2 separate regions of the Homo sapiens genome follow, and region 2 is linked to region 1. Evidence: fine-mapped expression QTL. A gene starts in region 1. The other region holds a variant in brackets. All regions are shown on one strand. Distances are from middle to middle. Region 1 holds the start of TINF2 (TERF1 interacting nuclear factor 2). Region 2 holds the start of TM9SF1 (transmembrane 9 superfamily member 1).

Region 1 (5,366 bases):
TTAGACTTCCCAGTGGAGGCTGCTCTTGTGCCCATGGCTAGGTCTGCTGTGTATATCGCATGTTCTTCCTTGCTCTCAGGCTTAGATATGACCTGGGTTGGTGAGCCGAGATTCCTAAAGGGAAACAGCATGACTGTGGGGCGCTCCTTATGGCCTCCCCTAGTGGAGGCCCATTGGGACTGAACTCTTCGTCGGCCTAGAGGGGCCAGATTGAAGTGTCGGCCAGCTAGAGGTTCTGGGTGCGTCCTTGAAGATGGTCCCTGAGGAAGATGTGTGCCAGGCTTGGCTTTTGGCAGGGGATTGTGGAGTGCTAGTCTTTGTTGCTGAGGAGGATTCTGTTCCATGGGCTCAGCCAGGTTCACTGAGTCAGTAACAGAGCACTCTGAAAAAGAAAATGAGGCCCCTTATAAAGAGAACAGATAGTAACAGAATAACTGGTTTCTTATGCCCGGAGCCCATGGAACTATTCCAGTGGACTGCCTCAAAAGGTCTCAGGCTAAACACTACACCTCCAAATTCCTAGTACCTGGAAGCAGCCACCCCATGTCCACACCATATTGTCTCCAGGCAAGAGAAGAGGTGATAGAGACTCCAGGCTGCATCCAACTCAGCACATCCTGAAGCTGTGGGCAGGGACAGAGGTATGAAGACCACAATCCTTGAAACAGCCACCCCACACTCTGCCCTTACATGTTTTGCCCCAGCGAAACCTGCTGTGCCTGCGGTGTAGGCAGTGCTTTCTCCAGCTGACACAAGTACTCAAAAAGCAGCTTTTCCATGGCAGCCAGAAAGGGTTCCCCATACTCTTGTTCAAGTTCCTACAGCAGGGGAGATTAGGTCAAAAGTGGGTTAGTGGCCAGGCACGGTGGCTCACGCCTGTAATCCTGGCCATTTGGGAGGCCGAGGTGGGCGGATCACTTGAGGTCAGGAGTTCGAGACCAGCCTGGCCAACATGGTGAAACCCCATCTCTACTAAAATACAAAAATTAGCTGGGCATTTGTAATCCCAGCTACTCGGGAGGCTGAGGCAGGAGAATCGCTTGAACCCGGGAGGCAGAGGTTGCAGTGAGCCGAGATTGTGCCACTGCACTCCAGCCTGGGCGACAGAGCAAGATTCCTCAAAAAAAAAAAAAAATGGGTTAGAGAAAATAGCCACATAATAGCCTTCAAACCAGTCTCACCTGCAGCTTCGAGGCCAAATCCACAGGAGCCTCTGACAGCTGCTTCACCTGCTGGTAAAAAGTTTCCTGTGCCTCCAAAATCTTCCTCAGATCCTGCTTTGTCTGTTGAGGATACAGAAGACAGAGAAGTTAGCACCAACATCCAGTAGACAGGAGGAGCAACTTTGCTGCACCAAGTGTAACTGGGGTCAGGGCTTGTTCCGGGGATTACTCACAGCCTTGGGATCCCGCACTATAGGTCCAGATTCTGGAAAGTGGTGATTCAGGGCTTTCAGGACTTGGGCCCAAGGCCGGCCCTGCAGGATCAGCTCCACCACCACCTGTACGGTACTGAATTCAGAATCCCCACTTCGGGGCAAGCTGACCTTTTCCAACTAGTCTCATCCCCAAGCTGTGGGCCCTTGTCAGGTGCTCGCATCCCGCCCCTTTCTTTCTTTCCCCTTCCAGGTCCTACTTGCTCCAATACCTTGGCCTTTAGGCCCATACAAAGGCGTTCGTGGTGCCGGTAGCGAACCAAGCCAGGGGCAACAGCGCGCAGAGATCGCAGAAACTCCAGTACTCGCGGAAAATGTTCCACGCAGCGTCCGCGCACAACCTGCCAGCTAGCCGCGGCGGCGAAGCGTAGAGCTGCGGGACCCGCCACCAGGGGCGTAGCCATGGTCGGCGGGCTCCGCCCGGAGGCGGTCCCTCCGGGTTCCTCACCCGGATGGGTGAGGCTTTCCGATCACTCCTAGGGGCGGGGCTTCTGGCAACTCCCTGTCGCTCCGGTCTGTCGGCTCTGGGTACCTCGCGATCTGACTCGGCTCCCTTCCATCGGCCCCCAGAATTCTGGGGGAGGGGGTCTTCTGGCTCGGGCTGGAGGAGCCTGAGTGGAGAAGCTGACCGTCTCCAGTGGCACTGGGTCGCTCAGCTTTAAACGTCGCCGCTGTCTCGAGCCCGAGGGTGCCTCACTTCCGGCTCCGCTACTAGCTTCCCTTGCCCCGGAAAAGGGCGGTAAGAGGGAGCCAATGGGCGGCCACAGAGGGAACCGTGACGGTGCGTCAGAAGGCCACGCCCCAGCGGAGCTGTAGCTGCCCGCTTCCTGCACTCTCTGCCGGCTGACATGAGTTGGCGGCTGAGGCTGTCGTGGCCGCTGAGGCTGTTGTGGCCGTTCGTCTGGGTCCTCCCAGCCTTGCTTTCTTCGCGGAGCCTGCGGAGAAGCCCCGTCACTCCCGTGAGGCTCGACTTCCTAGTCTGTAAAACGAGGATCATGCCACCGCCCTTTCCCACTGTCTTCACCCATCGAAATTTAGTTCTTTAAATTCCAGACCCGAGCCGGCGTCTACAAAGCCTTCCCCTCTGCGCGCGTCGCTTCCAGTAGGAATTCGACTGTTCCTTTTATAAAACAGAAGAGGGCGCCCGCCCTTAAAAAATAAAATACAGGCTGGGCGTGGTGGCTTGTGTCTAATCCCAGCGCTTTGAGAGGCCGAGGCAGGAGGGTCACTTGAGCCCAGGAGCTCCAGACAAGCCTGGGCGACATGGTGAAACCCCTTCTCTGCTAAAAGTACAAAAATTAGCTGGGCGTGGTGGCAGGCGCCTGTAATCCCAGCTACTCGGGAGGCCGAGGCAGGAGAATCGCTTGAACCCAGTAGACGGGAGGTGGCAGTGAGCCGCGATCTTGCCTCTGCATTCCAGCCTGGGCGACAGAGGGAGAATCTCTCTCAAAGAAAAAAAAAAAAAAAAAAAGAGGAAGAAGAAGAAATAGAATACAGGCTGGGGGCACGGTGACTCACACCTGTAATCCCAGCACTCTGAGAGGCCGAGAGGGGAGGATCGATCCGCTTGAGCCCAGGAGTTCCAGACCAGACTGGATCACATGGCGATAACCTGTCTCTACTGAAAATCAAAAAAACTAGCCGGGCGTAGTGGCACGCCTGTAGTCCCAGCTACTCAGGAGGCTGAGTTGGGAGGATTGTTTGAGCCAGGGAGGTTGAGGCTTCAGTGACTGCACTCCAGCCTGAGTGATAGAGTGAGACGGGGTCTCACACACACACACAAATTAGTTTCTTGTTTTAGGATTCTGTTGTGCACTGAACTTGTCAGCCCCCTAATGTAATTGACTGCTCTCCTTGACTGTCTCTTCCACAGGCTTCCTGGTGCCTCTCATTTCCATCAGCAAGCACAGAACCTAACACACAGCTTACACTCCTTAATTGTTGGCTGGATTAGTTGCCTGCCTTGACCACCTTACAAGGATTTAGTGAAACTGCTCCGTCTTTAGCCCATGTCTTCCATTCCCAGAGATAATGGTTCACACATCCTTGTCTCCGCCCCGGATCAGTCTCAGCTGATCCGCACATTCGACTGCCCAAGAAACACCCAGTCCCAAAGTACCCCAAATTGGATATGTGTGAAATTCTAGTTATCTTCCTTTTTCCCTTTATTTATTCCTTCTCTAATGTTCTTTCTTTCTTATGTAGATATGAACTTCTGTTGTTTTACTTTTTTTTTTTTTTGAGACGGAGTCTCGCTCTGTCGCCCAGGCTGAAGTGCAGTGGCGCGATCTCAGCTCACTGCAAGCTCCGCCTCCTGGGTTCACGCCATTCTCCTGCCTCAGCCTCCCGAGTAGCTGGGACTACAGGCGCCCACCACCGCGCCCGGCTTTTTTGTATTTTTAGTAGAGACGGGGTTTCACCGTGGTCTGGATCTCCTGACCTCGTGATCCGCTCGCCTCGGCCTCCCAAAGTGCTGGGATTACAAGGCGTGAGCCACCGCGCTCGGCTCTTTTTTTTTTTTTGAGGTGGGGAGACAGTCTCGCTCTGTTGCTCAGGGTGGAGTGCAGTGATCTTGGCTCACTGCAACCTCTGCCTCCTGGGCTTAAGTGATCCTCCTGCCTCAGCCTCCAAAGTAACTGGGGCTACAGGCATGCACCACCATGCCTGGCTCATTTTTTTCTATTTTTTGTAGAGACAAGTCTTTGTTGCCCAGGCTGGTCTCGAATTCCTGGACTCAAGCGATCTTCCCACCTCGGCTTCCGAAAGTGTTGGGATCGCAGGCGTGAGCCACTGCACGCAGTCCCTGGCTAATTTTTTAAAAAATCTTTTTTGGTGGGTGTGGTGGCTCATGCCTGTAATCCCAGAACTTTGGGAGGCTGAAGTGGGAGGATCACTTGAGGCCAGGAGTTTGAGACCAGCCTGGGCAATACAGTGAGACCCTGACTCTACAAAAAAAAAAAAAAAGAAAAATATGTTTTGTAGAGAAGGGGTGTCTCTCTGTGTTGCCCAGCCCAGTCTATCTTCATTTTTTGTTTTTTGTATTTATCCTGCTTGCTGCTCTCTGAGCTTCCTGGATCTGTGTTTTGTGTCTGTCATTAATTTGGGGGAAATTCTCAGTCATTATTGCCACATTTCTTATGTTCCTTTATTTTCTTCTCTGCCATTCTGATTATGTGTATGCTACAGCTTCTATAATTGTCCTACAATTCTTGGATATTCTGTTCTTTTTCATTTTTTTTTCTCATTGCATTTCAGCTTTGGAAATTTCTGTTGACATTTCTTCAAGCGCACCATGTTCTTTGGCCATGTCCAGTCTATTGATGAGCCCATCACAGACATTCATCATTTCTGTTACAGTGGGTTTTTTTTGTTTTTTGAGACAATGTCTTGCTTTGTTGCTCAGGCTGGAATGCAGTGGCTCAATATCAGCTCACTGCAACCTGTGTCTCCCAAGTTCAAGCGATTCTGGTGCCTCAGCCTCCCAAGTAGGTGGTACTACAGGTCGTACACCACCACGCCCGGCTAATTTTTGTTTTAGTAGAGATGGGGTTTTGCCATGTTGCCCAGGCTGGTCTCGAACTCCTGACCTCAAGCGATCCACCTGCCTTGGCCTCCCAAAGTGCTAGGATTACAGGCGTGAGCCACCGTGCCCAGCTGAATTACTCATTTTCAGCTGCTATCTCTGTGTAGCTGACTTCTTGGGAGTCCGAGGCAGGTGGATTGCTTGAGCCCAGGAGTTTGAGACCAACCTGGGCAAAATGGCGAGACCCCCGTCTCTACAAAAAAAATTGAAAAACTAGCCAGGCATAGATGTGCACACCTGTAGCCCCAGTTACTCAGGAGGCTGATGTGGAAAGATTGCCTGAGCCCAGGAGGTTGAGGTTGCAGTGAGCTGTAATCCAGCCTGGTTGCAATGAATTGCACTCCAGCC
Region 2 (5,366 bases), 45 kb before region 1:
GTCCCCTGGCTCCACTTGCTCCCATTGGCCCCCTCCCCGCCTCACCCTACCCCACGTCTCTCTATCCCAAAGACCCCGCTCCACCTCTGCTCTCTCATCCTCCCAACCTGGGGTTCACCCCACCCGCAGCCCGTCTGGCCCGGGGCCTCTACTACGCGCCCTGGCCCGTTTCCATGGCAACGCCGCTCGGTCTCGCACCTCGGGTCCCTTCCCGCCACAGCCCCGGGGTCCTCACCGCGCGGGAAGGGCTGGCCGAGGCGGCGCCAGCGGCCTTCGCGCCCCCGTAGCTGCCTTTGGGCTCCTGCTGGGGTCTCTCCCACAGCGGCGCGGTAGCGGCGGGTTGGAGAGGACCTGCCGACCGACTTCTACGGGGTTGCCCGTTGCTGCGCCTGACAGCGGCGGCTGCGGCTACACCGCGCTGGACACCGCTCTGGCTTACTCAAGAACTCCCCGTTGCGCCTTCTCCATCTGGAGGCCCGGCCCAGCTCCGGGGACCCCGTGAGGCTCGGCTTGCCCCGCCCGTCTTCGGCGAGGCGGGGGTCCTCCCGGCGATCGGCAGCGCGGCCCAGGACACGTCAGTCTTACCACTTCCGCCCTCACCGGCGGCGACCTCAGCCTGGCGGAAAGCTCCTTGCCTGGAACGCAGAGGGCCTTCGCTGCTGCGGCCCCTGGGGACTCCTTCGCGACGGCTTCCCGGGGAGGGGGCTGAGGCCTGGCAGCGAGGACCCTGACACCCCTTCGGGAGAGGAGTGGCTGCTAGGCCGCTCGCTTGCTCCTGGAAAGATTTGGGGTTTGAGAGCTCTTGGCCAGGAGGCTCGCGCTGGCCGAGGCCCGAGAGCTGTCCCCGCGGGACGGGACTAGCGAGGGCCGGGGAGATGGAGCGCAGGCGGCGTCTGGGTTCGAAGCACTTTCCGGCTGAACCACCTGCTGCTGAGGCTGAGCCCTGAGAGGCGGTTCGTGGCCCCCAAACCGGGGAAGGGGCGAAGCTTTGGGCATCTGTCCCATGCAAGGGTCCCAACATCTGAATCTCACCTCACTCGTCTCCCACCTGTCACGAATGGCCAGCGCCAAAGTGATAAATATGTAATAGGAATGTCTTCCCGAGGCTGTGCTGGAGACTTCCCTGGCCGCACAGTGACCGTTCAGAGCCCACGATAAGCAAGCCGAAACCCGGTTTGGCGCAGAGGCGCGCAAGGAGAGAGGTCTGTCCTTTGACTCTGTGAGTTGGGCAGCCTAACATGGTTATTGTTAATTGACGGTAAAGTATCTCGAGGTCCGTTAGTCTATGTTTTTGTTCTTATTTATCACTGTGTATGTCTTTGGGCTTCTCTTCACTTTGTATGGCAGATTATTTTGAAAAAGTTTACCCTTGTGTTTGTCTCAGCTGTTTTAAAGGGGATCTGCCGTCTAGGGAGTTCCCCTTGAAAATCGGACCTTTGAGCAGTGACTTCTGTTTTGCCACCTGGGAGCAACGTGTAAGGAAGTGGACTTAAGCTTCTCTCTCCCCAGGGGAAGAAGCACAGTGGAAAAATCACAAGTGACTTCTGGCCTGAAAAGCCCTTAATTTACCTGCTTCTACAATTACTGCCCTTTCTGACCCAGTTCTTTCCCTGCAGATATAGGTGAGGTTCAAAGAAGCAGATGGTGGAGTTTTGTTAGACAATCAGTGAATTTTCTAATTAGAAAAAGAACTGAGGTCGGGCGCGGTGGGCTCACGCCTGTAATACCAGCACTTTGGGAGGCCAAGGCGGGCAGATCACCCGAGGTCGGGAGTTCGAGACCAGCCTAACATGGCGAAACCCTGTCTCTACTAAAAATACAAAAAAATTAGCTGGGCCTGGTGGCGGGCGCCTGTAACCCCAGCCACTTGTGAGGCTGAGGCAGGAGAATAGCTTGAACCTGGGAAGCGGAGGTTGCAGTGAACCGAGATCAGGCCATTGCACTCCAGCCTGGGCAACAGAGCGGGACTCCATCTCAAAAAAAAAAAAAAAAAGAAAAAGAAAAAGAAAAAAGAACAAGAACTGAGAGTGGCTTAGAAATAATCTCTAACTGACAACCACCTGGTCTCTAAAGCCAGAAACTTGGGCCTCTTTCTCTCTATCTTCCCGCTCAGATATCAGTGTCACCAAGCCCTCTCCACTTATTTCCTGAATATCTTCCAGATGCTTGCCTCCACCTCTTTGGTTCAGGCTCCATCTTCTCTCACCTAAACTACCATGAGAGCCACCTTGCTAGTCTCCTAGTCACCTTCCCCCTGGGTCATTTTTCACACTGCTACTGGAAAGTTTCTTTTTTAAAATCAGGATTCTCAGGGGAGGGGGTGCCTGGTCATCAGCATTTTTTTTTTTTTAAAAAAAGCAAGCACTGAGGCCGGGCGTAGTGGCTCACTCCTGTAATCCCAGCACTTTGGGAGGCCGAGGTGGATTACCTGAGGTCGGGAGTTCAAGACCAGCCTGTCCAACATGGTGAAACCCCGTCTCTACTAAAAATACAAAAAAAATTAGCCGGGCATGGTGGCTCATGGCTATAACCCCAGCCACTTGGGAGGCTGAGGCAGGGTAATCGCTTGAACCCAGGAGGCGGAGGTTGCAGTGAGCTGAGACTGCACCATTGCACTCCAGCCTGGGCAACAAGAACCAAACTCTGTCTCAAAAAAATAAGCACTGATTTTGATGTATACCCAGATTATATGAGCATACAAGGTAGAGTCAAAATAGCCTGGCATATGAGACTGCTCAGACCTGGATCCTAATTACTTCTCAAGGTACATTCCCCTTCTGGAACCCTATTCTGTATTCAAATAGAAATACTGAATATCATATTCTCTCAAGCCGGCAAGCCTCATATTGTTCCTCCTGCCTAAACCACCCAATCTCCTATTCCCTACTT[A/G]TCTTTTTTTTTTTTTTTTTTGAGACAGAGTCTCGCTCTGTTGCCCAGGCCGGAGTGCAGTGGCGTGATCTCTGCTCACTGCAAGCTCCGCCTCCCAGGTTCACGCCATTCTCCCGCCTCAGCCTCCCGAGTAGCTGGGACTACAGGTGCCTGCCACCACGCCCGGCTAATTTTTGTTTTTGTATTTTCAGTAGAGACGGGGTTTCACAGTGTTAGCCAGGATGGTCTCGATCTCCCAACCTCATGATCTGCCCGCCTTGGCCTCCCAAAGTGCTGGGATTACAAGTGTGAGCCACCGTGCCTGGCCTTTTTTTTTTTTTTTTTTTTTTTTTGAGACAGTCTCACTGTCAACCAGGCTGGAGTGTAGTGGTGTGATCTCAGTTCACTGCAACCTCCACCTCCGAGTTCAAGCGATTCTCCTGCCCCAGCCTCCCGAGTAGCTGGGACTACAGGTGCGCACCACCATGCCCGGCTAATTTTTGTATTTTTTAGTAGAGATGGGGTTTCACCATATTGGCCAGGCTGGTCTCGAACTCCTGACTTCGTGATCCGCCCGCCTTGACCTCCCAAAGTGCTGGGATTACAGGCATGAGCCACTGCACCTGGCCTTATCCTTTTTTTTTGAACAGTGCAAATGTCACCTTCTCTATAAAGCCTTCCCTTACATCTCCTCCCAGGTTTGTTTATAGCATATCTCACTGTAGTGTTATTTTACTTCTTATGTGTCTGTCTCCCTTGCTAATTTCAAACTCCTCAGAGGAAGACTGTAATTTATTCATCTCTGTTTCCTCAGGACCTAGCAGTGTTTTTGTATATGTTAGGCAGCTTAATACATGATCTTCGCATGAACTGGTTTACCCCCTGTACATGATGAGAGACTAGAGTTGCCACCAAGTTACCTATCCGGGGGCCAGCCTGTGGGATCAGATGGGCAGGATTGGGTGGGCCCCCTTACCATGGTGTGCCCTGGAAAACTGCTCATCTTGCTAGATTGAGGATATAGAGCTGGCTTCCAACAGAACTTTGGAACCATCCTGCCAGCAAGGTCAGACTGTCAATAAATGGGAATTTATTGCATGCCTGTGGCATAATCTGTTCTTGAAGTATTCTGTTTTGGAGGATGGAAGATATGAGAATTTGGATTCTTCCCTTGTTCTTTTCTCTGCCCCTCTGTCCCCCACTGATATAGTTTGGATAGTTATCCCTGCCCAAATCTCATGTTGAAATGTAATCCCCAATGCTGTAGGTGGGTCCTGGTGGGAGGTTTTTGGATCATGGGGGCGGACCCCTCATGGTTTGGTGTAGTATTTACCCTATGAGTTCTCACAAGATCTGGTTGTTTAAAAGCGTGTGGCACCTCCACCACAACTCTCTCTCTCTCACTCCCATTCTCACCACGTGATGTCCCTGCTTCCCCTTCACCTTCCGTTTTGATTATAAGCTTCCTGAGGCCTCCCCAGAAGCTGAGCCAGCACCATGCTTCCTATACAGCCTGCAGAACGGTGAGCCAATTAAACCTCTTTTCTTTTCTTTTCTTTTTTTTTTTTTTTTTTTTTGAGACGGAGTCTTGCTCTGTCGCCAGGCTAGAGTGCAGTGGTGTGATCTTGGCTCACTGCAACCTCCCCCTCCCAGGTTCAAGTGATTCTCCTGCCTCAGCCTCCAGAGTAGCTGGGACTACAGCCACACACCACCATGCCCAGCTAATTTTTGTATTTTTAGTAGAGATGTGGTTTCACCATGTTGGCCAGGATGGTCTTGATCTCTTGACCTTGTGATCCGCCTGCCTAATTTGGCCTCCCAGAGTGTTGGGATTACAGGCGTGAGCCACTGCACCCGGCCTAAACCTCTTTTCTTTACAAACTACCCAGTCTCATGTTTTTGTTTGTTTTTGTTTTTGAGACAGGGTCTCACTTTGTCACCCAGGCTGGAGTGCAGTGGTGCCATCTTGGTTCACTGCAGCCTTCACCTCCCAGGCTCAAGTGATCCTTCTGAGTAGCTGAGACTATAGGCACATGCCACCACACCTAGCTAATATTGGTATTTTTCGTAGAAATGGGTTTTTGCTATGTTGCCCAAGCTGGTCTTGAACTCCTGGGCTCAGGTAATCCACCTGCCTTGGCTTCCCAAACTGTCAGGATTACAGGCATGAGCCACTGTACACGGCCTCAGGTATTTCTTTCTTTTTTTTTTTTGAGACAGAGTGTTGCTCTGTCACCAGGCTGGAGTGCAGTGGTGCGATCTCGGCTCACTGAAACCTCCGACTCCGTGGTTCAAGTGATTCTCCTGCCTCAGCCTCCCGAGTACCTGGGATTACAGGCATGCACCACCACGCCCAGCTAATTTTTGTGTCTTTAGTAGAGACGGGTTTCACTATGTTGGCCAGGCTGGTCTCGATCTCCTGACCTCCTGATCTGCCCGCTTCAGCCTCCCAAAATGCTGGGATTACAGGCATGAGCCACCACGCCCGGCCTGGTATT

The links.
Region 2: its variant is fine-mapped to the expression of TINF2 in whole blood (TOPMed, PIP above 0.99).

The regions. Positions count from the first base shown.
Region 1 is chr14:24,240,494-24,245,859 of GRCh38, forward strand. It overlaps TINF2 (TERF1 interacting nuclear factor 2), which reads right to left and starts at 2,130. Exons shown (of 9, transcript NM_001099274.3): 1 at 1,648-2,130; 2 at 1,397-1,501; 3 at 1,182-1,283; 4 at 711-818; 5 at 527-623; 6 at 1-382. The coding sequence starts at 1,839. RefSeq lists enhancers at 369-898, 1,559-1,778, 1,849-2,108, 2,279-2,578 and a silencer at 2,770-3,064.
Region 2 is chr14:24,195,111-24,200,476 of GRCh38, forward strand. It overlaps TM9SF1 (transmembrane 9 superfamily member 1), which reads right to left and starts at 331. Exons shown (of 6, transcript NM_006405.7): 1 at 236-331. RefSeq lists enhancers at 1-610, 680-739, 990-1,229, 5,247-5,366 and silencers at 100-279, 420-479. The variant A/G (reference allele first, on the strand shown) is at 2,890.